Linked DNA regions of Homo sapiens. The protein of the gene in region 1 interacts with the protein of each later gene in a biochemical or structural test. Each region holds a gene or a part of one and is shown in the gene's direction. Other genes may lie near its edges. The genes, in order: GRB2, GAB1, KIT and SOS1.

The links.
Region 2: the proteins of GRB2 (region 1) and GAB1 form a complex in vitro, tested with the Homo sapiens proteins (5 studies listed by BioGRID and IntAct, with this or other methods).
Region 3: the proteins of GRB2 (region 1) and KIT form a complex in vitro, tested with the Homo sapiens proteins (5 studies listed by BioGRID and IntAct, with this or other methods).
Region 4: the proteins of GRB2 (region 1) and SOS1 form a complex in vitro, tested with the Homo sapiens proteins (15 studies listed by BioGRID and IntAct, with this or other methods).

The regions. Positions count from the first base shown.
Region 1 is NC_000017.11:75,402,653-75,409,676, reverse strand, and holds the start of GRB2 (growth factor receptor-bound protein 2), read left to right. Parts: upstream 1-3,998; 5' UTR 3,999-4,188; intron 4,189-7,024. UniProt on the Homo sapiens protein: Non-enzymatic adapter protein that plays a pivotal role in precisely regulated signaling cascades from cell surface receptors to cellular responses, including signaling transduction and gene expression.
Region 2 is NC_000004.12:143,332,667-143,339,884, forward strand, and holds the start of GAB1 (GRB2-associated-binding protein 1), read left to right. Parts: upstream 1-4,209; 5' UTR 4,210-4,522; coding exon 4,523-4,594; intron 4,595-7,218. UniProt on the Homo sapiens protein: Adapter protein that plays a role in intracellular signaling cascades triggered by activated receptor-type kinases. Plays a role in FGFR1 signaling. Probably involved in signaling by the epidermal growth factor receptor (EGFR) and the insulin receptor (INSR).
Region 3 is NC_000004.12:54,723,931-54,730,956, forward strand, and holds part of KIT (mast/stem cell growth factor receptor Kit isoform 1 precursor), read left to right. Parts: intron 1-1,926; coding exon 1,927-2,120; intron 2,121-3,287; coding exon 3,288-3,394; intron 3,395-3,485; coding exon 3,486-3,612; intron 3,613-3,892; coding exon 3,893-3,997; intron 3,998-4,080; coding exon 4,081-4,191; intron 4,192-5,404; coding exon 5,405-5,555; intron 5,556-7,026. UniProt on the Homo sapiens protein: Tyrosine-protein kinase that acts as a cell-surface receptor for the cytokine KITLG/SCF and plays an essential role in the regulation of cell survival and proliferation, hematopoiesis, stem cell maintenance, gametogenesis, mast cell development, migration and function, and in melanogenesis.
Region 4 is NC_000002.12:38,985,045-38,992,070, reverse strand, and holds part of SOS1 (son of sevenless homolog 1), read left to right. Parts: intron 1-2,756; coding exon 2,757-2,801; intron 2,802-4,479; coding exon 4,480-4,598; intron 4,599-5,755; coding exon 5,756-6,247; 3' UTR 6,248-6,707; coding exon of another isoform or gene 6,708-6,761; 3' UTR 6,762-7,026.

The DNA.
Region 1 (7,024 bases):
GCAATTCTCCTGCCTCAGCCTCCCGAGTAGCTGGGGTTACAAGCATGTGCCACCACGCCCGGCTAATTTTTGCATTTTTAGTAGAGATGAGGTTTCACCATGTTGGCTAGGCTGGTCTCAAACTCCTGACTTCAAGTGATCCACCTGCCTCAGCCTCCCAAAGTGCTGGGATTATGGGAGAGAACGCTGCGTCCAGCTTGTCAAGCTTTTCAACAGCATACTGAATATTTCCACCTGCATGTCTCCTGGAATGCTGAATTCTGCATTTCCAAAAATGAGTCATCATCATGTTGGGGCTCAGAGAATGATACCCCAAAGTATGCTCCTCTGGCATTCTGAGCACTTTTGAATGAAAGGAAATTGGAAGGACTTACAAGCTGCCTCAGAACCAAGGACTTTTTAAAGTCTTGTTTCACCACCCCACATGCATGCAGGGGCTGTCTGAAAGTTCCCTTAGCTGACTGAGAAACCAAAAGAAATTCAATTGTGTACTTGCTTTGGCAGCACATATACTAAAATTGGAATGATACAGAGATTAGCATAGCCCCTGAGCAAGAAGACATGCAAATCTGTGAAGGGATCCATTAAAAAAGAAAGAAAGAAAAAGAGCAGGTGTGGTGGCTCACGCCTGTGATCCCAGCACTTTGGGAGGCCAAGGCGGGCGGATCACCTGAGGTCGGGAGTTCGAGACCAGCCTGACCAACAGGGAAAAGCCCCATCTCTGCTAAACATACAAAATTAGCCGGGCGTGGTGGTGCATGCCTGTAATGCCAGCTACTCTGGAGGCTGAGGCAGGAGCATCACTTGAACCTGGGAGGTGGAGGTTTCGGTGAGCTGAGATCACGCCATTGCACTCCAGCCTGGACAACAAGAGTGAAACTACATCTCAAAAAAAAAAAAAAGAAAAGAAAAGAAAAAAAATAGATGCGACTGTCTTAAAATTTCCTCCCTAGGACTCTCGTCAAATAACCAGGAAATATTAACTACCAGAGAAGAGAAAAGACTAAAAGTTGTCACCACATCCAAACAGACTTTTCATCTATTCTCCTGAGGACAGCTGAGATTATTTAGGAGACTTTATCTGCATAATAAGACAACCTTTATTTACAGTGAAGTCCTGCACCTCACCTTCCTGAAATTTGTCACAACCTCCAGCTCCCAGAGCTCAGAGGAACTTTGTCCCAGGCATTGTTTGGGCTCATTCCTTTTCCCTAAAAATAGTTGACTACCTTTCAGTATTGCTGACCTCCGCTCATCTCCCTCTCCTCTGCAAAGATGGTGCTCTTTAAGCTTCAGCCACCTGGCTCTTCTCTGAGTCTCATATTCTGTATGGTAACCATGCACACTGCATGTCAGTAAATTTGTATGTGCTTTCTCCTGTTAATCTATTGCCAGTTTATTTCAGCAGACTCAAACTGTCAGAGTGGAAGGGAAAAATTCCCTTCACCCTTACAATCATCTCCTCACCTGCCCTTCCCTGTTCTCTGTGCCTGCCCCCTCCAGTCAGCTATGCCTCTTGACTGGCAAATTTCTGTGTTCTCCCTGTTATCCAGGCCCACTCAAAACAAAAAACTGCAATTCTTCCCTCATGTCTTCCTCTCTGCTTAGCAGCTAAGTCCCTCCCTTCCATTTCTATTTTTTTCTGACTGCTATTTTAGAACAAAGTGGCATAGTGCGGGAAAAAAATGAGGATTTTAGAACAAGACAGGCCTTAGTCCAAATCTTAGGTCTACTATATTTTGGCTTCCTTGGGTAAATTACTAACCTCTCTAAGGCTTAGTTTCCAAGTCTGTAAAATGGGGATATTACCCACCCTGTGGAGGCGCTATGACTTAAGTATGCATCAAGTGGTAAATAGAGGGTCCTTTTCTTATTTTCACCTCATATCAGACACCTCCTGCTCAGAAACCTTCAGAGGTTGCCCATCACTTGACTATGACACCTAAGCCATGCATTTTGCATTTTGGCCCCTCTCTCTCATCACTCTTCCCCCCAATTACTGGGGCTTGGACTAATCAAAAACATTGGTTGATGGCCAGGAGTGTTGGCTCACATCTGTAATCCCAGCACTTTGAGAGGCTGAGGCAGGTGGATCACCTGAGGTCAGGAGTTCGAGACCAGCCTGGCCAACATGGCGAAACCCTGTCTCTATTAAAAATACAAAAATTAGCTGGGTGTGGTGGCAGGCTGCTGTAATCTCAGCTACTTGAGAGGCTGAGGTGAGAGAATGCTTGAACCCAGGAGGCGGAAGTTGCAGTGAGCCAAAATCATGCCACTGCACTCCACTCCAGCCTGGGCAACAGTGCAAGTCTCAAAAAAAAAAAAAAAACCAAAAAAACAGGCATGGTGGCTCACGCCTGTAATCCCAGCACTTTGGGAGGCCAAGGTGGGCGGATCACCTGAGGTCAGGAGTTTGAGACCAGCCTGACCAACATGGAGAAACCCCATCTCTACTAGAAATACAAAATTAGCTGGGTGTGGTGGCACATGCCTGTAATCCCAGCTACTCGGGAGGCTGAGGCAGGAGAATCCCTTGAACCCGGGAGGCGGAGCTTGCGGTGAGCCAAGATCGCGCACCATTGCACTCCAGCCTGGGCAACAAGAGCAAAACTCCGTCTCAAAAAAAAAAAAAAAAAAAAAAAACAAAAGGCTGATTCCATTACTCTTTCCTCTTTCCTCCCTGCTTTCACTTTGCCGTTCAAACCAAATCCTTCTTGATTAGCTCAGCACCAAGTACTGGCTCCCTCCTCAGCCATCCCTATGTGTAGTTCAGTGGCACTTGGGGCCAACTGCTTGTCTTACAGATTAGGCAACTCTAGATTACAAAGCACTGAAAGCAGGGGCTTCATCTGGTTGGTCTTTGACCCTGCAGAGCCCCTTGCACACAGGTGATGCTCAATAAATACTTGGTGAAAGCACAATTCATTTTCTGTGTTTCAATGGGCTTCTTTTCTCTATAGAATCAGATGCTTGGTTATTCTCACCTCAGCGCTATTTTGTTGGCTTCCAGAAGGCACAGTAACGCTAGGTGTGTTGTGTTCTATCCTTTAATTGGAAGAGCTTTGGGAACTGAAAAATAAGAATTATTTCTCCAAGCCTCATCTTCTGCCACTCCCCCGTACTCACCGGCCTCATACAGGAATTGAACTACTTAGCACTGCACAGAACACGACTTTCTCTCTCACGCCTCCGTTCCTCTGTACTTAGCCTCTGTACTTACGTGCCATTCCCTTTCCCTGAAATGCCCTTACTCTGGCTTCTCTGCCTGGCAAATTCCTACTCATCCTCCAAGACTCAGATCAGACATCGCCGCATCACATCTGTGAAGGCTCTTCTGCAATGGGCAGTGTAGCAGTACCCCCTCCATTTTTTTAGCTTCCTCAGCAAACTCCAAATAATTATAACAGTACTTATGGCATTATTTGTTTATTTTTCTTCTACTTCCTAGACCGTGAATTCCTTAAGGGCCAAGATTTCTGTTCTATCCCCAGCACAGTGTTCGGCCTATATTGGAGAATCCGGTCCGTACAAACTCTGCAGTGATTCAATCAATGAGCAAACAAACTCACCAATCATTCAACACAGCAGAGTTTGTACGGACCGGATTCTCAAATATTTTAAGACCTGGTCCTCTATTTGGAGTGCTTCATTCTGGAAGATCTCTTCCTCCCCCAAGCCCCTACCCATCCAACTGCCTAGGTTTGGTAGAAGAGGAAAATAAAGTGATTAGACGGGGGAAGAGTCCTTCAGGGCTAAGCTGTCATTTACCCGCTCTGGCACCGAGAGGGTTACGGCGACCCGGGGGCGGAGCCGTGCGGAGGCCACCTGCTGCGGGGAGGTCTGGCGCATGCGCCCTGACACCTAGCTGGTTCCCTACCCGCAGGGGCCCGGCTGAGGAGGAGCGCTTGCGCTCTGGGCCTTTTCCGCCGGGGGAAGTCTCGCGGGGGCGGGGCGGGGCCTCGTGGAGAAGTTCTCGCGGGACACCGACGGGGAGCGGAAGCCAGGAGGTATTGCTGCTTCGGCGACCGGGCGGCGGCAGCGGCGGCGGCGGCTGTGGCAGAGTCTGTGCCTGTGGCGGTGACGGCGGCGGGAGCAAGCGCTGCCCTCGCAGAGCAGCCTTGGGGTCGCCGGCCGCTCGCAGCGTTGTGGAGGGGCGGGCCGGACGCTGAGCGGAGCAGCTGCGCCACGGTGAGTACGGGAGGCTGCGCTCGGCGCCTCTCTCGTGCCTTTTCCTCTTGGCTCTACAGCGGGAGTGGGCCCCGGGGGAACCGGGACCGGCCCCGGGGTTCGCGTCGGGGCGGCGAGGCTTGGGACGTGGAGCGCAATCCCCGGGGCTCCGGACTCTACGTTTCCCCTTTTGGGGCGCTTCCTTCCTGGGGACCGTCCTCCTCCGGCTCTTGGCTCTGGGCAGTCCGGGGGAAGAGGTCGGGGTTCTCTGGCGAGGTCCCCTGCCTTCATCGGGAGGGTTTGCACGGAAGGGGCCCGGGAAGCCCAGGCGGGCCGAACGCCGACCGAGTCAGTCTACCCGAGCCTGGCGGCGGGGGACTGGTGTGGGCTGCAGCTGTGGTGATTGATGTGCCTTCGACCTGCACGGCAACCACGTCACCATCTCCTGGCGTCTTTGGGCTTAATTTTGTGCGGGAATCCACTTTGGGGTGGAACGTTTGCTGCTGGAGCCGGGGGAGATACCTTTATTCTGACACTTAAAAAAAAAAACTATTTGAAAAATATTTGTCAAGAAAAATTCAGCAGTAGCAGGTTGGACTGCACCGAGGAAGGATTGCGGCGAGAGCGGGCGCTGGTAATTTTCATTTGCAGCGCGCCCTCTCTATGATTGTAAGCCACACATGAGTTATGGCTTGTTTAGAAAGTTTTTCAAGGCTGGCTTCAAACGCTGTGAAAGTGCAGTTTGCAGGGGACTGAAGTGCACTTGAGGTCTGTCTCTTTTTGATGCTGTTGACTTTCCGAAATGTCAGACACATGAGAGAAATTAGCATTAGTCTATTTTGGCTTTCTTACTCCTCTTTCTCCAGTTATTTCCTTCCTTCTCTATCTGCTTCTGTCCTTTCCACTAGGGACACGAAATGCTTGTGTAATGCAAGTCATTTGCCCCTTCCTCCCCCCACCCCCCCCTTTTTTTCTAATGTACTTCCCCTTCCTCCTTGTAGTCCCCACTCTGGCGTAATTTTTCGAGGTTTCTTCCCTTTCGTGCTGTTCGTTTTCTCTCATTTCAAGATTCCGTCTTTTTCCTCGGGAAGAGACTCTCTTTCCTTGCTTTCGTTCCTTTACTTTTGCGCGTCCCCTGCGTTCCCTGCAGTCAGCCAGAAGGGTTGCTAGAGAGCCGTGGGAGGCTGAAGTCCCCTCTCTGAGAACGGGGAGGCTCAAAAGATTGAATTCATCCCTAAGAAATCAGTCCTGCCACTAGGTCGCAAGTGTGGTTTGCTTGTATTATTTTTGTCTTTTACTCTTTTTCTTTTAAGATTATGCTTCTGTGCCTGCTTATGTTTTCTTCTAGTATGTCTTTATAATAGGAAGATTGGGTCAGCTCAGTGACTTTTTTTTTTTAGGCAGAGTTTTGCTCTTTTTGCCCAGGCTGGAGTGCAATGGTGCTATATGGGCTCACTGCAACTCTGCCTCCTGGGTTCAAGCGATTCTCCTGCCTCAGCCTCCCGAGTAGCTGGGATCACAGGCGCCCACCACCATGTCCAGCGAATTTTGTATTTTTAGTAGAGATGGGGTTTCACTGTGTTGCCCAGGTTGGTCTTGAACTCTTGACCTCAGGTAATCCACCCGCCTTGGCCTCCCAAAGTGTTGGGATTACAGGCGTGAGCCACCGCGCCCGGCCAGAGTTAATTCTTATAATCAGCTTTCTTCTACTAAACACAAGCATTTATTTATTTATTTTATTTTTTTGAGACGGAGTCTCGCTCTGTCGCCCAGGCTGGAGTGCAGTGGTGCGATCTCGGCTCACTGCAGCTTCCACCTCCTGGGTTTAAGCGATTCTCCTGCCTCGCACTCCCGAGTAGCTGGGATTACAGGTGCTCACCACCACACCTGGCTAATTTTTGTATTTTTGTAAAGACAGAGTTTCACCATGTTGGCCAGGCTGGTCTCGAATTCCTGACCTCAAGTGATCTGCCCATCTCAGCCTTGGGATTACAGACATGAGCCACTGCGCCCGGCCTGAACTCAAACGTTTAAATGTTTGAGGCACTTTACTTCGTCAGCAAGTTATTCAGATTTGAGAGGCTTGCTGGGTTTTAAATACTACTGGTTGATGGTACTTAGAGATTCTTCTCAGTAATTGCTGTTATCATGTTGCATGTTGTCCATCAGAGTTCTAATTGTTACACATACAACAGAAGAGGAATGGATTTTGGAGAAATGAAGTAATACAGAATAGAGAGTCACCATGCCCTCCGGAGAGAAATTAATACTTGCTTAATTCAGAGGAACTCTCCACCATTACTGAATGGCTTTTGAGAGTCTGTATATATATATATATTTATATATATATATATTTTTTTTGGTCAAAGTTGCCTTTTTCCTAGTTGTGCCAAGTGAATACGCATTATTTTCTTTTTCCTTTTTTTTTTTTTTTGAGACAGATTCTCGCTCTTGTTGCCCAGGCTAGAGTGCAGTGGCACGATCTCAGGTCACCACAACTTCCACCTCCTGGGTTCGGGCAATTCTTCTGCCTCAGCCTCGCTAGTAGCTGGGATCACAGGCATGCACCACCACGCCTGGCTAATTGTGTATTTTTAGTAGAGACAGGGTTTCTCCATGTTGGTCAGGCTGGTCTGGAACTCCCGACTTCAGGTGATCCACTCACCTCAGCCTCCCAAAGTGCTGGGATTACAGGCGTGAGCCACCGCGCCCGGCCAATATGCATTATTTTCATTTCATGCAAGGACATTGTAGTGCATTATCTGGAATGCAAATTTTAAAATCTGGTTAAGGCATCCTTATGGTATAGCAGTTATTTAAAATTTAGTATCCATAAAAATCACTGGGAGATCTTTTT
Region 2 (7,218 bases), on another chromosome or scaffold:
CCTACCGCCCTACTCCTGGGGGGTACATCCTCTGTTATATGCCCAAACAACACTATATTTTCTTCCATAGCATTTATCAACTGTATTGCCAAAATGATGGGGTTAATTATCTGCAAAAGCTTTTCTCTAGGAAAGAGGAGTGTGGGAACAGGTCTGGCTTTCCCCTACTGTATCCTGGGTCCTCAGGGACTGGCATATAATAGGCATCCCATAAATATTCGTTGTATGAATAAAATTTAAGATACTAACATATAATAACTTTTTCCAGCGTGCCTTTTAAGGCATAAAGATATAAAATATGATTTAACAAATAATCTAAACATGACATATAAAAATAAGGCAAATTTCCTTTCTAAAATATATACATGGAGACATATCTATCTTCAATTTCTCTTCAACCCTGATTTAATTTCTAGAAATACAAGCCTAAAACAACTCAGTAGAAGATAGGAAAAACACTTAAAGATTTTTTACATAGGAATGAGATAACTGAATGCCTTATTTGAAATAAAGAAAAAAATTTGTGGAAATTCCCAAAGCTAAATAATACAAGATATATTACAATTTTCCATTTACAAAGAACTTTATAACAAGAGTGTAGGAAATGGTAAATTTGCTAAAGCCAATAGTTAACTACTCAACAATACTAGTCTTACTAATGCTAATTATACTTTTGGCTCAATGTAGCTACATGCTGCCTATGGGAGAAGAGGAAAACAAATTTGATGGTTTATTTTCATTTGGAAGATTTGTGGCATGATTTATATTCACATACTTAAAAAGAAGTGCTTTGGTTTATTAGCTGCCATAAAAATTACGCTTGTTTATGTTTCAGAAAGAACATTAAGAAATACAGCAACAAACAGCAAAAATCCTACAATATCTAATATGTGCCTGATATTTAAAACTACCATTTCTTTTTTCCTTTTTTTCGAGACAGACTCTCACTCAGTCACCCAGGCTGGAGTGCAGTGGCCCTATGTCAGCTCTCTGAAACCTCCCTGTCCCGGGTCCAAGTGATTCTTGTGCCTCAGCCTCCTGAGTAGCTGGGACTACAGGCACGCGCCACCACACCCAGCTAATTTTTGTGTTTTTAGAAGAGACTGGGTTTTCACCACGTTGGCCAGGATGGTCGCGACCTCCTGGCCTCAGGTGACCTGCTCATCTAGACCTCCCAAAGTGCTGGGATTACAAGTGCAAGCCATCACGCCCAACCAACACTACCATTTTCCTTTTTATTTATTTATTTATTTTTCAGAGACAGTCTCGCTCTGTCTCCCAAGTTGAAGTGCAGTGGCACGATCTCGGCTCACTGCAACCTCCACCTCCTGGGTTCAAGCGATTCTCCTGCCTCAGCCTCCCGAGTAGCTGGGACTACAGGCGCGTGCCACCACACCCGGCTAATTTTTGTGTTTTTAGTAGAGACTGGGTTTCACCACGTTGGCCAGGGTGGTCTCAAACTCCTGGCCTCAAGTGACCTGCTCACCTAGACCTCCCACAGTGCTGGGAATACAAGCGCGAGCCATCGCGCCCGACTAACCGACCAACACTACCATTTCTTTTCTTTTCTTTTCTTTTCTTTTCTTTTCTTTTCTTTTCTTTTCTTTTTTTTTTTTTAGAGACACAATCTCGCTTTGTCGCCCAAGCTGAAGTGCAGTAGCGCGATCTCGGCTCGCTGCAACCTCCGCCTCCCGGGTCAAGCGATTCTCCTGCCTCAGCCTCCCGAGTAGCTGGGACTACAGGCGCACGCCGCCACGGCTAATTTTTTGTATTTTAGTAGAGACGGGTTTTCACTGAGTTGCCCAGTCTGGTCTCAAACTCCTGAGCTCAGGCAATCCACCCACCTAGGCCTCCCAAAGTGCTAGGATTACAGGCGTGAGCCACCGCACCTGGCCAACACTACCATTTCTATTTCTCATTAAACTTCTGCAAAATCGGTGTTGCAATTCCCATTTCACATATCGGGAAACTGAGACTCAGAGACATTGTGTAATTTACCCAAGGTCACGACTACTCAGTTGATGACCTGAAAAGTGCATCCAGATCTGCAAGAAGTTCCGCCCTTGTGATACTGTTAAGTGCCTGCCAAAAGATGACGGTCTCTAAACCCCAGTGGGAACCAGGCTTTTTCAGATTTTTCTTTTTTGAGACTGAGTCTCAATCTGTAGTTTTGTTGACTCTTTATTTGCTTACTACCCTATGCCACTACCTCCATATATGCAGGGATCTTTGTCTTGTCACCACTCCAGCACCTAATTTCTTATTACAATCATCTAACATTTTCAAACTCAGAGGAGCTTCAGAATATGAATGTTGTGTTAATAAGAAAATGACTGAAGTTATGTCTTTCCAGAAATGCTCATTTATGTCGTCATATTTTTAGCACTTTTATCTGATTATATTATCTGCTGAAATTGGCTTTGGGGCTTTTTCACAAATAAATTGGAGAAGATGTTTATTACAGAATCATGTTAAACTCAGGACCAGTATAATAATTGTGAAACACACAAGGAAGTAGGCAAATAGAACTAGGGTACCCAGTAAATTTCCTTCCTTCCTTCTTTCTCTCTCTCTCTCTTTTTTTTTTTTTTTTTTTTTGACGGAGTTTTGCTCTTGTTGCCCAGGCTGGAGCGCAGTGTCGCGATCTCGGCTCACCGCAATCTCCGCCTCCCGGGTTCAAGCTATTTTCCTGTCTCAGCCTCCCGAGTAGCTGGGATTATAGGCGCGCGCCACTACGCCCGGCTAATTTTTGTATTTTTAGTAGAGATTGGGTTTCTCCATGTTGGTCAGGCTGGTCTTGAACTCCCGACCTCAGTTGATCCGCCCGCCTCGGCCTCCCAAAGTGCTGGGATTACAGGCGTGAGCCACCGCGCCCGGCCAAGTGTCCCTCTTCTAGTCCAGCATCCGAACAGTAGATTTCAAACAAATACAAAGTTAAGTGGAATAGGCAACAAATGGAAGGGGTGTGAGACTTCAAAATGTCTCAGAGATAGGACCCAACCAAATCCTTGGCCTCGCCAAGCGCCCCCATCACTCTGGCAGAACAGCTCCAGAGACCAGCCCTGGCCAGCCCTGGGTCCCCATCTGTCCTCCCCTCCAAGCTGGTAGCTCCCGCGCCCTCTTGGTCTGTCCTTTAATCTCGCGCGGCGGGGACCGGCAGGATGGTGGTCTCCCCGCGGTTTTGCCTTTCAGGCTCTCAAGTAAAGAAAACCCTCGAAACTCCTGATCTCGAGCACAGCACAAGCTCCGAGCTGGCACCGGGCTGAGTCAAGATGGCAAGCCCCGGACTGAACATTCGAATGTCCCTCAGTCTTCCCCGCGCCCAAGCCCCGGTGCCTCTGCCCTAGCCGAGGCCTCTGCGGTCTTCCCGGGCGAGGAGCCGATTGGGGGCCGCCGGACGGCGGAGGACCCTGCTCCTGCTTCCCGAACTACAGATCCCAGGGTGCCTCTCGGACTCGCGCTCCCTCCCTCCCTTGCTCCCTCCCTTCGTCCGTCTCCTCCCCCGGCCCTTGTTGTTTTGGCTGGAAGCACTCCGGCGGAGTTTCAGAGAAAGTCTGGGCAGAAACCGGAGCCGGGCCTGAACGTGGGAAGGGGAGGAGGAGAGGGAGGAAGAAGGAGCCCGGCGGCCGGGAGAGGGAGGGAGGGATCGGGATCTGGGGCCGAGCCGCTCAGGACCTGCCGCGAGCCCCGGGGTGGGGGAGGCGGCGGGGGAGGAGCGCGAGGGGACGGGACAGCGGGATCCCTCCCAGGAGCCAAGCCGCCAAGCGCCTCGTTCCTCTGCTGCTCCCCGCCCTCTTCGGCGGCCGCGAGAGCGGACCCACCCTCCGGCTTGACCTGCGACCTCCCTGCGCCCGCCGCTCAGAAACGCCCCGCGCTTCGCTGCCAACCCTGCGGCTCCCTCTGTGACCCGGGACCAGCCCCGCGCCCGCTGCCCGTAGGCGGCTCGCGGCTTCCCCTTTCCTCGGCGTTCACCGAGCGCCGCGAAGTGACCCACCCTCCCCCGAGGAGAGGGAAGGAGGATCGCTCCGGGCGCATCGAAACCGAGGGCGGGTGGGCGGGCGAGCGGGCACCGCGCGGGGCATTGTGTGTGTGTGTGTGTGTGTGTGTGTGTGTGAGCAGCGCTGTGTCTGTTTCGGAAAGCGCTCTGGGGAGGTCTTGTCCCTAGGGGGCGGAGCGCAAAGGACAGAAGCTCCGGCACCGAGTCGGGGCAGAGTCCCGCTGAGTCCGAGCGCTGCTGAGGCAGCTGGCGAGACGGCACGTCTGGAGGCGAGGCGGGCGCACTGAAAGGAGGCCGGCGCGCCCGCGGCCCCGGCTCGCGTTCTGTTCAGGTTCGTGGGCCTGCAGAGGAGAGACTCGAACTCGTGGAACCCGCGCACCGTGGAGTCTGTCCGCCCAGTCCGTCCGGGGTGCGCGACCAGGAGAGCTAGGTTCTCGCCACTGCGCGCTCGGCAGGCGTCGGCTGTGTCGGGAGCGCGCCCGCCGCCCCTCAGCTGCCCGGCCCGGAGCCCGAGACGCGCGCACCATGAGCGGTGGTGAAGTGGTCTGCTCCGGATGGCTCCGCAAGTCCCCCCCGGAGAAAAAGTTGAAGCGTTATGTAAGTAGAGCTGCGGGCACCACTCCGCGGGCCTCGGCGTCCACACCCCTCCCCAGTCGGCTCGCCGGCGGCTGCAGCTGGCCGCGCGCGGGGCTGGTTCTTAAACGAATGCCGGTCTCTTTCCCCTTGGCCCCTACCCCTGGCGGGCTCGGGACAGGGTGCCTTGCACTCCCTCACGCCCAGGCATCCACTTGGCCGGACAACTTTCTTCCTCCAGGTTCCAGACAGCCTGCTTTGCGGGCCTGTTCGCCCCATAAAAGGACCTAGACGTCCAGCTAAACTCCTGCTGCATGCTTTTTTTCTTCCTTAGGAAGGATGGGGTGCGATGGAGAGAGGAGCCTTCTTCCTGCTTTATTCCTGCATCTGATTATTGGGCTGATGTGTGCTAAAGCTCCCGCACCGGGAAAACTGCCGAGGTTTTAGGGCTCACTAGCCCTTTCTTTGGTGGGCGCTCCCTCTCCTCCGCCCCTCGAGATGGGTTGCGGGAAGCGGGCTGTGGAGCTGAGGAGTTGGTAGTAGAGACAAGCATATCGAACGCGCGCAAAAGGGAAAGAAAGAAAAGTTATTACGCGCCCTGCCGTTTGCTTAGCAGGGTTCACATTTTCGCGGTTTTGAATTGAGGGACTTTGGAGTTTGGCCCGGGAGCCTTGGCGGTTTGCTGCGAGAGGAGGGCGCTGGGGGGGAGCCTAGTGGCTGGTGTTTGGGCGCCTTGGATGTGCTGTCAAACTCGGCAGGAGGGGACAGCTGAAGCCAGAAGGGATTTCAGTTGCGGTCCTTTCCCAGGGAACCAGAGTGGCTTTAATGGTGTTTGTGTAATTGATACAAGATGCTATGTGTTAAACCGTTTTAGCTGTTAGGAAAAATATTCCTTGAAAGTATCAACCTTGCTTTAGTGGAAACCTGTGTCCTCTTCAGAGGTCTGGGATCTTATTCTTCCTCCCCATTGGTTGTTTTGTTGCTGCTCCCTTGCAAAGGAAAGAAATGACACTTTTGTGCTGACATCTGGATCAAATATTTTTCTAGTAAAATGTGTTTGCAAAAGCAAAATTTATGCCCCCTTAAATATAATATAAATTTAATGCCTGTACGAAGGGAACCCGTTTGTCGTTGAGGAATATCTACACCCAGTATTAGAGCTCAGGTTAATCCTGTTAGTCACTGTTTGCTTGTATAGAACAGAGTGAAGTACACAGAGTGAAGTATTTAACTTCACTGACAACTCACCAGTGAATTTCTGATTTACTTTCTGCCAGAATTTATTATAGACAAGTAATTTTATTGAAAGACTCGATGCCACAAATCATAAGAAAGCTCTCCAGAGATGTGTAATGCCTCCAAATCCTGTCCATCTATCAGTTTTCCTGAATATCCTAGTAAAAATGCTAACTTTATTCCAAAAATATGAACGAGGCAGTGTTTTTTTTTCCAGCTGTTCTAAAGAGAAAGGTAGGGGTGTGTGTGTGTGTGTGTATGTGACAGAGAAGGAAGGGAGAAAGGGGTAGGGAGATAAATATATTTGTTTTGAGAAGGCCCAATTTAGGAAAAACAGATTCTTGGAGGAATTAAAGAATAACATATTTGCTGAACGTGAAAGTGATAATATAGGTTTAATTCATTCTTTCACATGGTTAGTTCATGGCTCACTCAAAAGACGCCAGGCACTGTATTAGACACCAACCATAAGGTCACAAAATACAGTAGGAAAAAGGAAAAAAGCCCTGCCTCTTGGGCTTAGAATTCAATTGAACTATTAACCAGGAAAGAAATCAGCCAAAAAGATTATGTCTTAACAAGAAAAACAAAAAGGAAAGTATAATTTGATCATTACAACTGTTTTCTGAGGTAGGTGTCATCTCTATTTTACAGAAAACAGTCCTGCATTTGAACCCAGATCTGCCTGATTGATTGGACTGTAAAAGGTTAACGACTCTCACCTAGTTCATTTCAAATGTGGAGCTTAGACTAGGTTATCTCTAAAGGTCCTTCAGGCTCACACCTGTAATCCCAGCACTTTGGGAGGCCGAGGCCAGTGGATCACCTGAGGTCAGGAGACCAGCCTGGCCAACATGGCGAAACTCTGTCTCTACTAAAAATACAAAAAATAGCCGGGCGTGGTGGTGTACGCCTGTAATCCCAGCTGCTGGGGAGGCTGAGGCAGGAGAAATGCTTGAACCTGGGAGGTGGAGGTTGCAGTGAGCAGAGTTTGTGCCATTGCACTGCAGCCTGGATGACAGGGTGAGACTCCGTCTCAAAAATAGCAACAACAAAATAAAGGTCCTTTCAGATTATAACTTTTCCTGACTCTGAATATTAGTTGAGAATACAAGAATGAGGTGGACTATGGATCAGGTGCACAGTGCTAAAGAAATGTAAGACCTAGTCTTTGCCTTTAAGTAGCTCTTTGAGTCTTTGGGACCACGAGACAAGTATATGTGAAAAAGCCAACAGTGCAAAGTGGTATATGACTGTGTGTCTAAGTTGAGTGGTATGGGTATTTTTTGGCTGTTCTGAGGAACAAGTTCAATGTAGACTGAAACTATGGGAACATTTGAGAGAGACAGTGGGCTGCCTACATTGTGTTTTCCACAGGAGGATGAATGTGCCTAATAGCTTGGGAGAAACTA
Region 3 (7,026 bases), on another chromosome or scaffold:
TCTGGATTTATCATGCAATTTCTAGCCTGCAGGTAGATAAAGCAATTTTGCAGGACAGAGTAATTAGATTTCCATTCTATACACAGGAGGTAATGTGTGTGGGAAATGTGACTGTAGTTATCATGAAAAAATTACCTCAGTAGTTAATTGCCAAGTTACCAAAAAGTAATGATCGCACAATTACAACATACATATGGCATTTGCAAGCGACCGCTTTTAAAAAGGGTTTCTTCTTGATAATGTGCCCAGCCCCTGAACAGAGAACATCTGGCACTGTGCTGCTTGCCCCTCACCATCCACACTTAAGCCTTAAATTGCCCTTTTGCATTACCTGAAGACGAAAATGGGGTCACCACAGCTGTTTTTATCCATCAATTGCTATTTTATGCTCAGGCTTTAAAAGCCCAGGTTAACATCACAATTGAATAGTTAGTATGGTCGCAGAAATTTTATTTTTCATGGAATAAGCCTCTTTATCACAACAAGTTGGAAGGGGTTACATCGGATTGCTGTTTTCAGCTGGGGTTTAGGAGAGTGTTTTCTTTTGGGGAATACTAAGTAGGGTTCAAGGCCCCTGGGAGGAATGGCCACAGCAGAAGCAAGCCCTGTAGTTACAGGCATTCATTCAGTAGATACACAGGGAGTGGCAAGTGTGTACCAGACACTATTCTAATGGACAGAACACACCCAAGTCTTTTTGCCTTTATGAGTTTATGTTCTAGTGCAGGGGTGTTCAGTCTTTTAGCTTCCCTGGGCTACACTGGAAGAAGACGACTGTCTTAGGCCACACATAAAATATAGTAACACTAACGATAGCTGATGAGCTAAAAAAAAAAAAAATTGCAAAAAAATCTCATAATGTTTTAAGCTTCATGAATTTGTGTTGGGTCGCATTCAAAGCCGTCCTGGGCCACATGTGGGCTGCAGGTTGGATAAGCTTGTTCTAGTGGGTAGAAACACATAATAGATGGAATAAACAATGAATGTATGTAGGTGTTAAGAAAGGAAACAGGGAATAGCTAGGTGTTTAGAATAGGGAAGTCGGGGTCTGGCTCATGAAAAGGATCCCTTGCAGTGGTGGTCTCAGCCACCTGCAGTATAACTAGGCCTTCCTGCTTAGAACTCAAACTTCAGTCCTCACTTTGACTATTTTCTGGTCTACATCCTTGATTTTGTTGTTGTTGTTGTTGTTGAGACCGAGTCTCACTCTCTTGCCCAGGCTGGAGTGCAATGGAGTGATCTTGGCTCACTGCAACCTCTGCCTCCAGGGTTCAAGTGATTCTCCTGCCTCAGCCTCCCGAGTAGCTGGGATTACAGGCGCCTGCCACCACGCCCAGCTAATTTTTGTATTTTTAGTAGAGACGAGGTTTCACCATGTTGGCCAGTCTGGTCTTGAACTCCTGACCTCAGGTGATCTGCCCACCTCGGCCTCCTAAAGTGCTGAGATTACAGGTGTGAGCTACTGCGCCCGGCCCCTTGAAGATTTTTTATGCTTTCCTCCTCTATGCTATTTCTTTTCAACCATTCGTGTACCCTTTTGAAGCTTGTTTATTTTAGGGATCTACTGTGTACCAGCATATATGCCTGCCATTTTATTGAATTCCTTTCCAATCCTTTCAGTAACCCTCTGCAATGGGTATTACTATCCCTGTTTTACAGTCGTAGAAACTCAGTGTTGGTGGGGGTTAAAAACTCATCAGGATTCAAACCCGCATCTGACTCCGAAGCCTCCTCTGCCTTCTCTTCCCCAGTGCTTTTTTCACTCACTAGGTCACCAAAGTGCTTATTCTTAGACACTTGTAAAAGGACATTTTCTGTTGATTATGAACCTCTAACTTTGTTTTAAAAGTATGCCACATCCCAAGTGTTTTATGTATTTATTTATTTTCCTAGAGTAAGCCAGGGCTTTTGTTTTCTTCCCTTTAGATGCTCTGCTTCTGTACTGCCAGTGGATGTGCAGACACTAAACTCATCTGGGCCACCGTTTGGAAAGCTAGTGGTTCAGAGTTCTATAGATTCTAGTGCATTCAAGCACAATGGCACGGTTGAATGTAAGGCTTACAACGATGTGGGCAAGACTTCTGCCTATTTTAACTTTGCATTTAAAGGTAACAACAAAGGTATATTTCTTTTTAATCCAATTTAAGGGGATGTTTAGGCTCTGTCTACCATATCAGTCATGATTTTAAGTTCATTCCAACATTGACCATGTCATTTCTGGTAATACATGCATCACACCATACTGTCATCAAACTCACTAAGTTTCATTTTGTACTAGCTTGTTAAGTATATGCTTTTACCAGAGCAATTTTAACCATGCTACTTTATATATTTTATATGTATGTGTGTCTCTATTAGTTGTATATTTACAATTGTCTCCATTAAAAAGAGCTAGAGAAAGCAAATGGGGGAATATATTTACCTTACACCCAAACAGAATTAGAACAATCTAAAATTTAAATTCAATTAAAAATTTCAGTTATTTAAAATGAATTATTTTAACACTTTGCCAGACACTGTATCCAAAAGTTAACACTGCCTTTATGAAGTCATGTTAGCAAGTTATTTCTTTAAAATATTTAAAATTTGATTCATGTGTGACTAACTCTCTTAACAAGTTAAAAGATCTTTTGGGCAAACTGATGAATTGGTACAAAGTGGGAAGACAAAGAAACTGGGCACTTACTTTTTAGGCCTTCTTGGGGTTTTGTTTGTTTGTTTGTTGTTTTCGTTTTTTGAGTCGGCAAAGACTAGTGCCAAAAAGTGGCGTGTTTTCTCAGGTTTTGAGTAGTGAGGGGAAGAATCTTCCATGTTTTTCAGACAGGGCAACGAAAAGAATACCTTAAAAATGTTTTTTTTTTTTTTGGTTGTGAAAGACATTCATGCTCAGTGTAGAAAATTTGGAAAATACAGGAAAGCTTAAAGAAGAAAATATAAACCGTCCATAAAGGAAGCTTCTTTTTTTTAAAGTTGTACAAGGCAGGAATTTGATTGAAGTATAAAGTGCATTCAGATGTTGCTTTTCATTGAAAAACAGCATAAATTATTCCTTTTCTACAGAAATCTCAACTTCTATTCTGCAGTATTGTGGTTTCAAGTTATATTTTTAAAGATTCATTTGAATAACAAGAGTACAATGTAACCAAGGTGAAGCTCTGAGACTCACATAGCTTTGCATCCTGCCATGGGCTGTGAGTTGGGAGGTGGGGTCAGTTTGGGACTGAGTGGCTGTGGTAGAGATCCCATCCTGCCAAAGTTTGTGATTCCACATTTCTCTTCCATTGTAGAGCAAATCCATCCCCACACCCTGTTCACTCCTTTGCTGATTGGTTTCGTAATCGTAGCTGGCATGATGTGCATTATTGTGATGATTCTGACCTACAAATATTTACAGGTAACCATTTATTTGTTCTCTCTCCAGAGTGCTCTAATGACTGAGACAATAATTATTAAAAGGTGATCTATTTTTCCCTTTCTCCCCACAGAAACCCATGTATGAAGTACAGTGGAAGGTTGTTGAGGAGATAAATGGAAACAATTATGTTTACATAGACCCAACACAACTTCCTTATGATCACAAATGGGAGTTTCCCAGAAACAGGCTGAGTTTTGGTCAGTATGAAACAGGGGCTTTCCATGTCACCTTTTTGGGTACACATAACAGTGACTTTAAGGAACTCCAGTGGCTTCCTTTGTTTTGTTCCACCTGAAACAATGAGTTTTCTGTGAAATTGCGCCCCTTTTGATAGGTTTGCCATAGAGAACATCGTAGGAAAATGTCTCTGGACAACATTGTTTTTAATTCCTTTATTGATTTTGAAACTGCACAAATGGTCCTTCAATTCCACCACCAGCACCATCACCACTTACCTTGTTGTCTTCCTTCCTACAGGGAAAACCCTGGGTGCTGGAGCTTTCGGGAAGGTTGTTGAGGCAACTGCTTATGGCTTAATTAAGTCAGATGCGGCCATGACTGTCGCTGTAAAGATGCTCAAGCGTAAGTTCCTGTATGGTACTGCATGCGCTTGACATCAGTTTGCCAGTTGTGCTTTTTGCTAAAATGCATGTTTCCAATTTTAGCGAGTGCCCATTTGACAGAACGGGAAGCCCTCATGTCTGAACTCAAAGTCCTGAGTTACCTTGGTAATCACATGAATATTGTGAATCTACTTGGAGCCTGCACCATTGGAGGTAAAGCCGTGTCCAAGCTGCCTTTTATTGTCTGTCAGGTTATCAAAACATGACATTTTAATATGATTTTGGCAATGCTAGATTATAAACTGCTTGGAAGATTTTTTTACCCAGACTGTTGTTCTCTCTTGCTAGATTTTGTTTTCCTCATTGTTCTTAAGAATGCAGATTTTAATTTTATCATTATGGGGTAGAACAGCCCAGGACATACCCTAGTTATTGTCGTATTTGTAACATCAACGACATCAGCCTCTTGAATATCTCATCCCGACCAGAAGGCTTCTGTTATCTTGTAAGCTTTATACATTTCTTGATCATATGTAGCCACTGAAAGGGTTAATATTAATTTGCATACTACAATTTAAAACAGGCGCCTAAGCCTACTGGTTCTCAAATATACACCAAATGAGGCAAACATTTCACTTCTCTAAAAATAAGTTTCCAATTTGAAGCCTTAGTTGAAGTTCCCATCAAGGATGTCTGTGATGTTTGCAGAAAGTATTTCAGTTGAAAGAAACAAAGATGTGTAAAATGAGCTGTTTCTGGAGATCCACGATAAAGTTGACAGCCTTATATCATGTCTTCCAATAATCCCCATAAATGTTGCTTCACCACATCATGAATTGTTCATGAGAAAATTTCTTACCCAAGTTAATTAGTTGCCTGTTACTTCTAAACTACAGTTTAAACATTCATAGCACCAAAAAATTTTTCAACTAGTAGCGCTCAGAACACAGGTCATTTTAGGTTTTCACTCACTTTCCAGTCTTGTCCCAGCTGGCTGCTCCTTGTGGCTGATTTTCCCACTATGCCACAGTTTGTGCCTTCATTATTTCCATAATAACGTTACAGAGAGTGTGTGAAGCCCTGCTGTAAACAGAAGTGAACCAGAGGATTCACGTAGGAAGCTTGATAATAGTAGAATCTTTGAAAGCAGTAACTTCTCTCTGTAAAACCAGCAGTCATGCTTGGCTCCAAATACTAATGTCACTTAGAAATTCAGGTTAAAAGAGGCTTGCTTGTTTTATGTTACTCCACATAAGGCTGCTTTTTTGATAAGCAGTGTTAATATATGGGATTGTATTGGGACTAAGTAGTCTGATCCACTGAAGCTGAATATTAATGGCCATGACCACCCTTGGGTATTTTTATGGGAGGCAGAATTAATCTATATATCTCACCTTCTTTCTAACCTTTTCTTATGTGCTTTTAGGGCCCACCCTGGTCATTACAGAATATTGTTGCTATGGTGATCTTTTGAATTTTTTGAGAAGAAAACGTGATTCATTTATTTGTTCAAAGCAGGAAGATCATGCAGAAGCTGCACTTTATAAGAATCTTCTGCATTCAAAGGAGTCTTCCTGGTAAGACTGATTTACATAAATAGTTAGCTGTTGACAGGCAGTTCATGGGGTCATAAGGGTTTGCAATCAAGGCTGATTCTTTAAAAAATGAACTGAGGTACTCTGAGGTATGAAATCAAAATTATTAAATCATTTAAATGTGATTAACAGTTTAGAAAGTTAAATTGTGTTTTTAAAGATTCAAACCTAGATTTTTGCTGATTTTTTAAAAATGTATTTTCAGTTTTCTTCTACACTTTAGTTCCATGCAACTGAATGCATTCTATATCTGTTTCTCTTACGGTTCTGTCCTGCATGTATTTCCATTTATACTATTGAGCTTGGTACTACATGCATGTTTCCAGTGAGATACTGTTTATAGGGAAAATGCTAAAGCCTCTCAAGTTGCCACAGTAAAGTCCCTTTAAAACCTTTAGCAGAATGACAAAGAGCTCTGAACATATCTCCACATGTAGGCTTCTTGCCATCGACCTCTGGATTATTCCTGTATACCTTGCCTCTTGCCCTTTTTATTTCATCATGCTATTAAAAGACATAACTACTCCAGCACATTTTTTAAAAATTCTGGACATTATTCTCATCTCTTTCATCATTGATGCCATTCTGAATTTGAATCATGTATAAAGAGCTTTGAGTTTGACTTACAACCAGAAAAGAATTCTTCTCATATCTTGCCTATTCTTTCTTTGGAAATGCTCTTAAGGGCCACCATTTGAGAAGACTTCCTAGATGTACCCAGTCCAACAGAAGTCATGGTTATTTTGCCCAGTCCCCTATACTGTATATTGCTGCAGTTGTGTGGTAGATTTCTCCTATCCTTTTCATGCACTTTATATCCACTGCATCTTGCAATGGCAAGACATTGCCTCCTGAACTCTTAACACCAGGTCCTCAAGGAGACCTCAGTAAATATTATTGATGGGCAATTACCCCTTAAAGCCATTTTCTGTACCTCTGGCTAAAGTTTAAAACCCCAGGTGAAACTTTTTATTTTTTTTTAATCCTATAAACTTGAGTAGTTTAAAGTGGTAGTAGAAACTGTACAAAACCACTTTTTGTTAGTTTCTCCTGGGCATGTGCTCATTATATGAAGAAATGAGCCATTTTGCTTCTTTCCGAAACCTTGGCCCTATATATATCCTTTAACTTTCTGATATAATGGCCTAAATTGTTCAATCCTGTGTGATGTTCTTTGTGCTTTGGGATCCCATATGGGATTGGAACCACCAGCACACTCTGAAGGAGATTGTTGTCATGGTGTTTCTATGCTAATCAGAAGCAGGAAGTACTAGAAATCTTGAAGAGTCTCCAGCCAAATGTTGCAGATTGAAGAGGTCCAGATGGTTCAGAAAATCATCCAAATTATTGGTGTTTATCTGAACCAACTTGATTTTTTTTTAAACCTTCCTCCATCAGTCACTATATGTTAACGATCTCTGCCTCCTGCATAACACGTCTTGGAAGCTCTTCT
Region 4 (7,026 bases), on another chromosome or scaffold:
TGCCTTGACTGCAGTCATATGTCATCCCAACATATTCCACTCAAAGCAGTACAAAGTTCCATTGTTTAAGTTTTTCAAAAGGCAGAGTTTGACTAGAATTTTTTTTTATCAGTTATAATACTATACTATTCTTTTTTTACTCTTACGGTTTTTTCCCAAAATAATCTACTTTTAAAAACCTATAATTAATTATTTCAGCCAGTATCTGCTGCATATCTTATTCCTTGCTAAACACTTACACGTCTTCACTGGGAAAGCTTGCAGTCTTACTGAGAGATTAAAAATAATCATAGTGCAAAGAGATTCACAGTTAAACGCTAAAAATAGTGGTAAAGACATAAATACTGGAGAAGCTTATAGAAAGATGACCTCAGAATGAGCAAGAGTGGTCATGGAAAGCGTTGTGGCAAAGACAGGGCAGAGAAGTGGCCACGTACTTAGTGCTGCCACACATACATTCAAAGCCCTGCTCCACACCTTGCCCTGGCCAGGTCCACCTTTGAGGTGATGACGACAGTTGCTGAGAAAAGAGAAAAGACCACTGGCTCACTACTTGTTTCTGCTGCTATAATAGAGAGGAGAAAATGATGAAATGCTCTTTTTACCTTCCTGTTTGAAGATTGCCTGGTCATAAAAGGGAGTCAGAGGTCTGACTTCTCCATTTCCATCCCTTAGGGGACTCTTTAACAACAAAAAGAATGTATTACAAGTATGTCAAGCTGATAACGCAAGGCTTTTCCTCCTGGAAGATTGCTGTAGGTGATGAGTTTCTAATCCCAAATATATTTGCATTTACCAGGCTTTTGTGAGTTTAAGAAGTTATCTATCATATCTTTTTTTTTTTTTCTATAGAAAAATGCTTGTTTCTATCAAGAATGACTCCTTTATAAACTGGGGAGTATCTTTAAGAGTGGTTTCAACCCTGACTGTATAGTATCATCTGTTGAGGAGCTTAAAAAAAATATGTAGGCCCAGCCCACACTAGACTGGCATTGGTACCTGGTATCAGTATTTTTTAAAAACTTCCCATAGGATTCTAATGTACAGCCAAGATTGAGGACCATTTGTCTGTCATCTGGGATTATGCTTAATAAATTAATACTGTTTTTTAAATTAATTAGATTTCACTTCTAAGTCATTATCAGTAAATTTACTCAGTATCTAACTGACAAGAATTTCTAGCATATATTTCTTGATTAGTGCATGTAAAATTCTAAAAGAATTTCTATAGTATTTTCCAGGCAATAAGACAACTAGTGCCCCAAATTTACCAAATGCATGAGTCTAAGCCTGTGCTATATATAAATATACTCAAAGCCAAGTTTACATCTGTGTACACAAGTGTGCATGCATATGTACAATTAAAGACTATAGTTGTAACAGTCATGAGCTTGTGTTTTGATTTTACTCCTATTCCTGTATTGTATTAAGTGTACTATCATGTTCTTGAGGCATATCTCCAGGAGATATGTTTATTTCTTTTCCAGGAAAAGTGGGACATATATAAGTAGGGTAAACGCTAGAGCTAGATACTCCTTTAATCTCTATTACGTCAGATCTCTGGCTCCCTTTTACAACCAGGCAATCTTCAATTATAGGTGGCTAATAGGGAAGAAAATCATCGGCAGAGCAACAGCTTCATGTAATTTCAGAGTAGAAAAATGAATTTTAATCTTCTGAAAGGTAATATTAGAATTAGCTGGATTGCTACACTTAGGAATCATAGGTTCCAAATAAATATCAGTACATACGGAAATCAGATAATGGGACAGATTATTTGAAATTAGGGCTGCCTAGAAATCTGGAATGTGAGATCACCCTCCTTCTGACCAAATATGCTTGAATAAACTTAATATTCCAAATTATGTGAGGGATTGCCTATTGTGCAAAAAAAAAAAAACGAAATCTGAATTTAAAAAAAATTACCACAGTCTAGTATTATTTTAGTCTCTTGGATGTTATAACGTTATCTGTTCCATCTGTTGTTAATATGAGACACTGTACAAACAAACAACTATATTGATTTAGAATCAGTATAGATCACCTAGCTTTTTGTCTCAATTTTCCTACTTTAATGCTCTTGGGGCTTTCGCTTTTGATTTTCAGTTTTTTCCTTAAAATAATTAATATTGTTGAAATTAGACTTTCTAAATTTAAATTTATCAGAATTTCCTATGTAAAATGAGTCTAGGCACCAAATGTTTAATGACTTTAAAAAAAATGTTTATGACTATAAAAGGAAAAACCCTGTATCAATTTCAAGCTTGTTTTATATCCAAAGTGCTAGTTATTTTGTGATGAGAATATATGCCCCAAGAACATTTTTGAAAGACATATAATTAGTAACTTTTTTATTTTTCAACTTACATAAAATAAACTTATTACTTGTTTCACAAGTTTGAGTTTTCAAAATAATATTTACTAAATGGCATATTTATATACATCCAGCTGAACTTTTTGCTTGAATTGGGTTTCTACATTTTAAAAAGTCTTTCAGTAATATACGATTTTTTTATGAATGTTTTTCATTTAATAATTATGAAATCAAGTAAAGCTAAAAGGAATCTTAAATTCCCAATATGATATCATTTTTTTCTTCTCAAAAGTAAGTAGTAATGAGGTTTTACTATAAACTGTTACAGCATTCTTTAAAACGACAATGACAATAACATTTTCATCATAATACAAATTTTTGCAGATGAGTTGAATATATCAATGAAAGAAAAAAATCTACTTTTTCTTGTTTCCTTTCACAGGCAATGATACCGTCTTTATCCAAGTTACTCTGCCCCATGGCCCAAGTTAGTATATTTGGTTTAAGACTCATAATTCTTGCTTTGGCTTTAAAAATCAAACCAAGTGTAACCTTTCCTGCTAAAACTCTTCTTGGGTCTGGCAGCATTGGTACCTTGCTTGCAACATCCTAGAAGTGAGGCCTTCACTTGTGCTATCTTTAGATCATAAGTGATTTGCTTAAATTTATATATTTCTCATGCTTTTTATAAAACCTTGTTTCTCTCTTAAAAGAACATATTAAATAAGTGGCTTCCACATTTAACCATTTCTTTTTTCCAACTATAGAGTTCTAAGTATATTTTAATGCTCAACTTTGAAAAAAAAAAAAAGGCAAGAGCATGCATGCGCATATGGGAATGCTGGCAGCTACATGCAGTTTCTAAATCACAAAATATACTTAGCCTGATGGCAGGATAGATTATAGACAACTGCTTTTGACTTTAGAAGAACTTTCTTATAATTGTAATTATTCAAAGTATAGCCTAAATACTGATAAACAAAATAAAGTTCCATTTTAATTGTAAGGTAAACTAACAAGTCACTAAATTCCATTATTTTAATTATTTAAGCTAATATTTTTTTGCTGTCCTTTCATACAATTTCAAAATATGTACAATGGAAAATACTAGTTACAAGCTGAATTAACTATATTCTTAAGAAAAAAGGTAGGTGATCAAAATGTTGATCATTTAAATAATATCAGTACACAAAGTACTCTTTTTAAGTTCTATATTTTATAACATGTGACAAAATAAAAAGCTTAATGCTTAAAGGGAAAAAAAACTGCCAACTATAATTTTGAATGATGGTTTAAGTATTTTTTTCACATCTTTTTTTATAGTAGGTATAAACAACTAACTTAAGTGTTGTTTTCCAAAGTGTATTTATATGCCTACCTTATGTTCTTGTTACCATAAATGTCTGTAAGAGAGGTTCTAATTAGTAGCTTTACTTACTTTTTTTGTGCCAGTCCACCAACTTATTCTTAAATCAGATTCACTAGATTTTAGTGTAATTTCTGTTTTCATGGTCAGGGCTGCCTCCGTTGTCTTGAATAGTGCCATCACCGTTAAAATTTTTGGATTTAGAGTATAATGAGCCTCTTTTTGCTTACAGGCAAAGGGGAGCCTATAACTAAACAAAATGAGGAGAGGCCCCTCACCTAGACACTATGATTCTTTCCCTTGCATCCTTTGAGAGAAATGCTAGGGAGAGACATTGGAGAGAGTGGTTAAGAGCACACACTCTACTCCCAGGGACTATCCAGTAAGGTGGGGAAGTTCTATAAATTCTAATAAAGTCAAAGAAAAAAATGAACCCATTATAGAATCTAAAAATTACCATTCCAAAGATTTTCAGTAGCTCACTGTCTCCCAGACATCTGAGAATCAGACTCAATTAAAAATTTCAATAATAGAGTAACCATGGGAATGTTATTTTGTTCAGGCAAAATAACAGAATACCTTAGGCAGCTTTTTTCTAAATATTCTGCTAAAAAATGTCTGCATGCTTTTATGGCAGTTTGCTTTAATGAAATACTATTCGGTATTGGTTTATTGAACAGCTTTTGGTATTTCTACACATTACTTTTAATTATAAGCAATTTCCAGCTAAGACTTTTCAAGGTAAATAAATGAAATAAAATTCCTGTGGACTTTTTCTTAAAAATTTAACATCCCACAGGATCTGCTTCTGTATCATCTATAAGTTTAACCAAAGGCACTGATGAAGTGCCTGTCCCTCCTCCTGTTCCTCCACGAAGACGACCAGAATCTGCCCCAGCAGAATCTTCACCATCTAAGGTAAAGTAAGAAATCTTGTTGTGTAGAAATTGGAATCATTACAGTTCATTATAATAAACGGCTGTCTAGTTTAGTTCTCACTAGGATAAGTTAACATTTCAGAGTATACAGGCTTAATAGTTTAAACAAGGATTACATATAGATTTAGCATGCAGTAATGTTTCTTTCTTCTGAAGGTAGTTTTTTGGTATGCATTCAAGACCCTTGTAAACCTAAGGCTATGGTTATTTTCAGAAAAAAACAAAAGTTTTAATCTGTAAAGTAAGAGGAATTTGGTTTCAAGCAGTTCTTTAAAAGCATACAGAGAAAGTCCTGAAGCTTTGTATGAAGGCACATTATAAGTCAAACTGTATTTTGACATATGCTAAAATTTACTTATCTGAGCCCTTAATAGTAAATCTGACATACTTTTAAATGGAGTTTTCATGAAAATTCTGGGTTTGGAAGAGACCCCAAAGGCTCAAAATAGCTATTATTTCTACTTATTTAATTTTGTTTTTTTCTTTTTGGCCAGCTGTTAAACTTAATTCATTAGTTCTTAAGCTGTCCAGAGTGCAGAGCACCAGGATAAGTCAAGACAAGACACTCTTTGTAGAACTTCATGAATGTTAACATAGTTAACTTAAAATTATAAAATAGGTACTTTATGCTAAATTAGAAATGATCTTAGATTGAGTGATAAGCTAAGCAAGCAGTAGCAAACAAAATTTTGAGGAAAAAAATTTAAGTAAAAACTACGGCAAACTTTTTTTTTCTATGAATTGACAGAACCTCCCATTTAAAACATATGCCAGCCTTGGCAACAGAGCAAGACCTTGACTCTACAAAAAATGAAAAAAATTAGCCAGGCATGGTGGTACATGCCAGTGGTCCTTGCTGCTTGGGATGCTGAGGTCGGGGGATCACTTGAGCCCAGGAAGTTGAGGCTACAGTGAGCCATGATTGCACCACTGCACTCCAGTCTGGGCAATAGAGCAAGGCATTGTCTCAAAAAAAAAAATTTTTTTTTAATTAAAAAGAAAACATATGGCAAAACTCCCTGTTCCACACTTAGCATCCTGCCAATAGCATGTTTGAAAACCCCAACTTAATTCTTATAGTCATGATACTTCATAAATTTATTAATAAATGTGTATTTTATTCTTTTCATTTGTTAGATTATGTCTAAGCATTTGGACAGTCCCCCAGCCATTCCTCCTAGGCAACCCACATCAAAAGCCTATTCACCACGATATTCAATATCAGACCGGACCTCTATCTCAGACCCTCCTGAAAGCCCTCCCTTATTACCACCACGAGAACCTGTGAGGACACCTGATGTTTTCTCAAGCTCACCACTACATCTCCAACCTCCCCCTTTGGGCAAAAAAAGTGACCATGGCAATGCCTTCTTCCCAAACAGCCCTTCCCCCTTTACACCACCTCCTCCTCAAACACCTTCTCCTCACGGCACAAGAAGGCATCTGCCATCACCACCATTGACACAAGAAGTGGACCTTCATTCCATTGCTGGGCCGCCTGTTCCTCCACGACAAAGCACTTCTCAACATATCCCTAAACTCCCTCCAAAAACTTACAAAAGGGAGCACACACACCCATCCATGCACAGAGATGGACCACCACTGTTGGAGAATGCCCATTCTTCCTGAGTTCCTCTGTACTGGGATGTATATTTTCCTAGCCCCAAATCCATTGCTGGCAATGGATGCACTGAATGTGCCAGCACTGAGGAGTTAAAATGAGAACTCCAAACACTAACGACTCTTCTTCAAGATGCAGTATAAGACAATGAATTTTAACCTAGATGTAATTATACAATGGAAATGGTATTCCAGTTTAGAATATGGAAAGACCGACCTAGAGGAATTGGACAACTGATTGCACCTGAAAATCATAAAGGGACTTTTTCTGGCCAATAGGCAGGAGTCCTCTTTTTGTGAAGTGATCTTTTGTGAAGTGATCATTAAAGGGATGGAAAACACAGTCTAGTGTCCAGCAGGCCCACATGACAGTTTTTGTAATTCAAATTATGCACTTTTAAAAAAAAAAACTTAAACAGGGATCTTAATATCTTCCTTTGTTTTCCTTTGCTTTACTCTTCTACTTTAGAATATTTTCTTAAAAATCACTCAAAGGACTGTGAGGAAAGGCTGTGGTACCTGACCTTGTTGAAATCAAGGCCCGGCACTGTACTACAGGCCTGTTTACAGATTATTACGGTGAACTGAATGGGTACCGAGGCTTCACCAAAGAGGTACTTTTTTGTTGTTGTTGTTGTTTTAGGAATAATTGTACCAATTTTAAGAGCATTCCCCCCACCTGTCCCCACACACCCAAACAAAATGTGGTGGTGTTGCCTTCAAAAAAGAGAAGTTTTGTGTCATTAACATGACAGAAGAACTTTTTAAAAAAAAATAACTGTCAACTA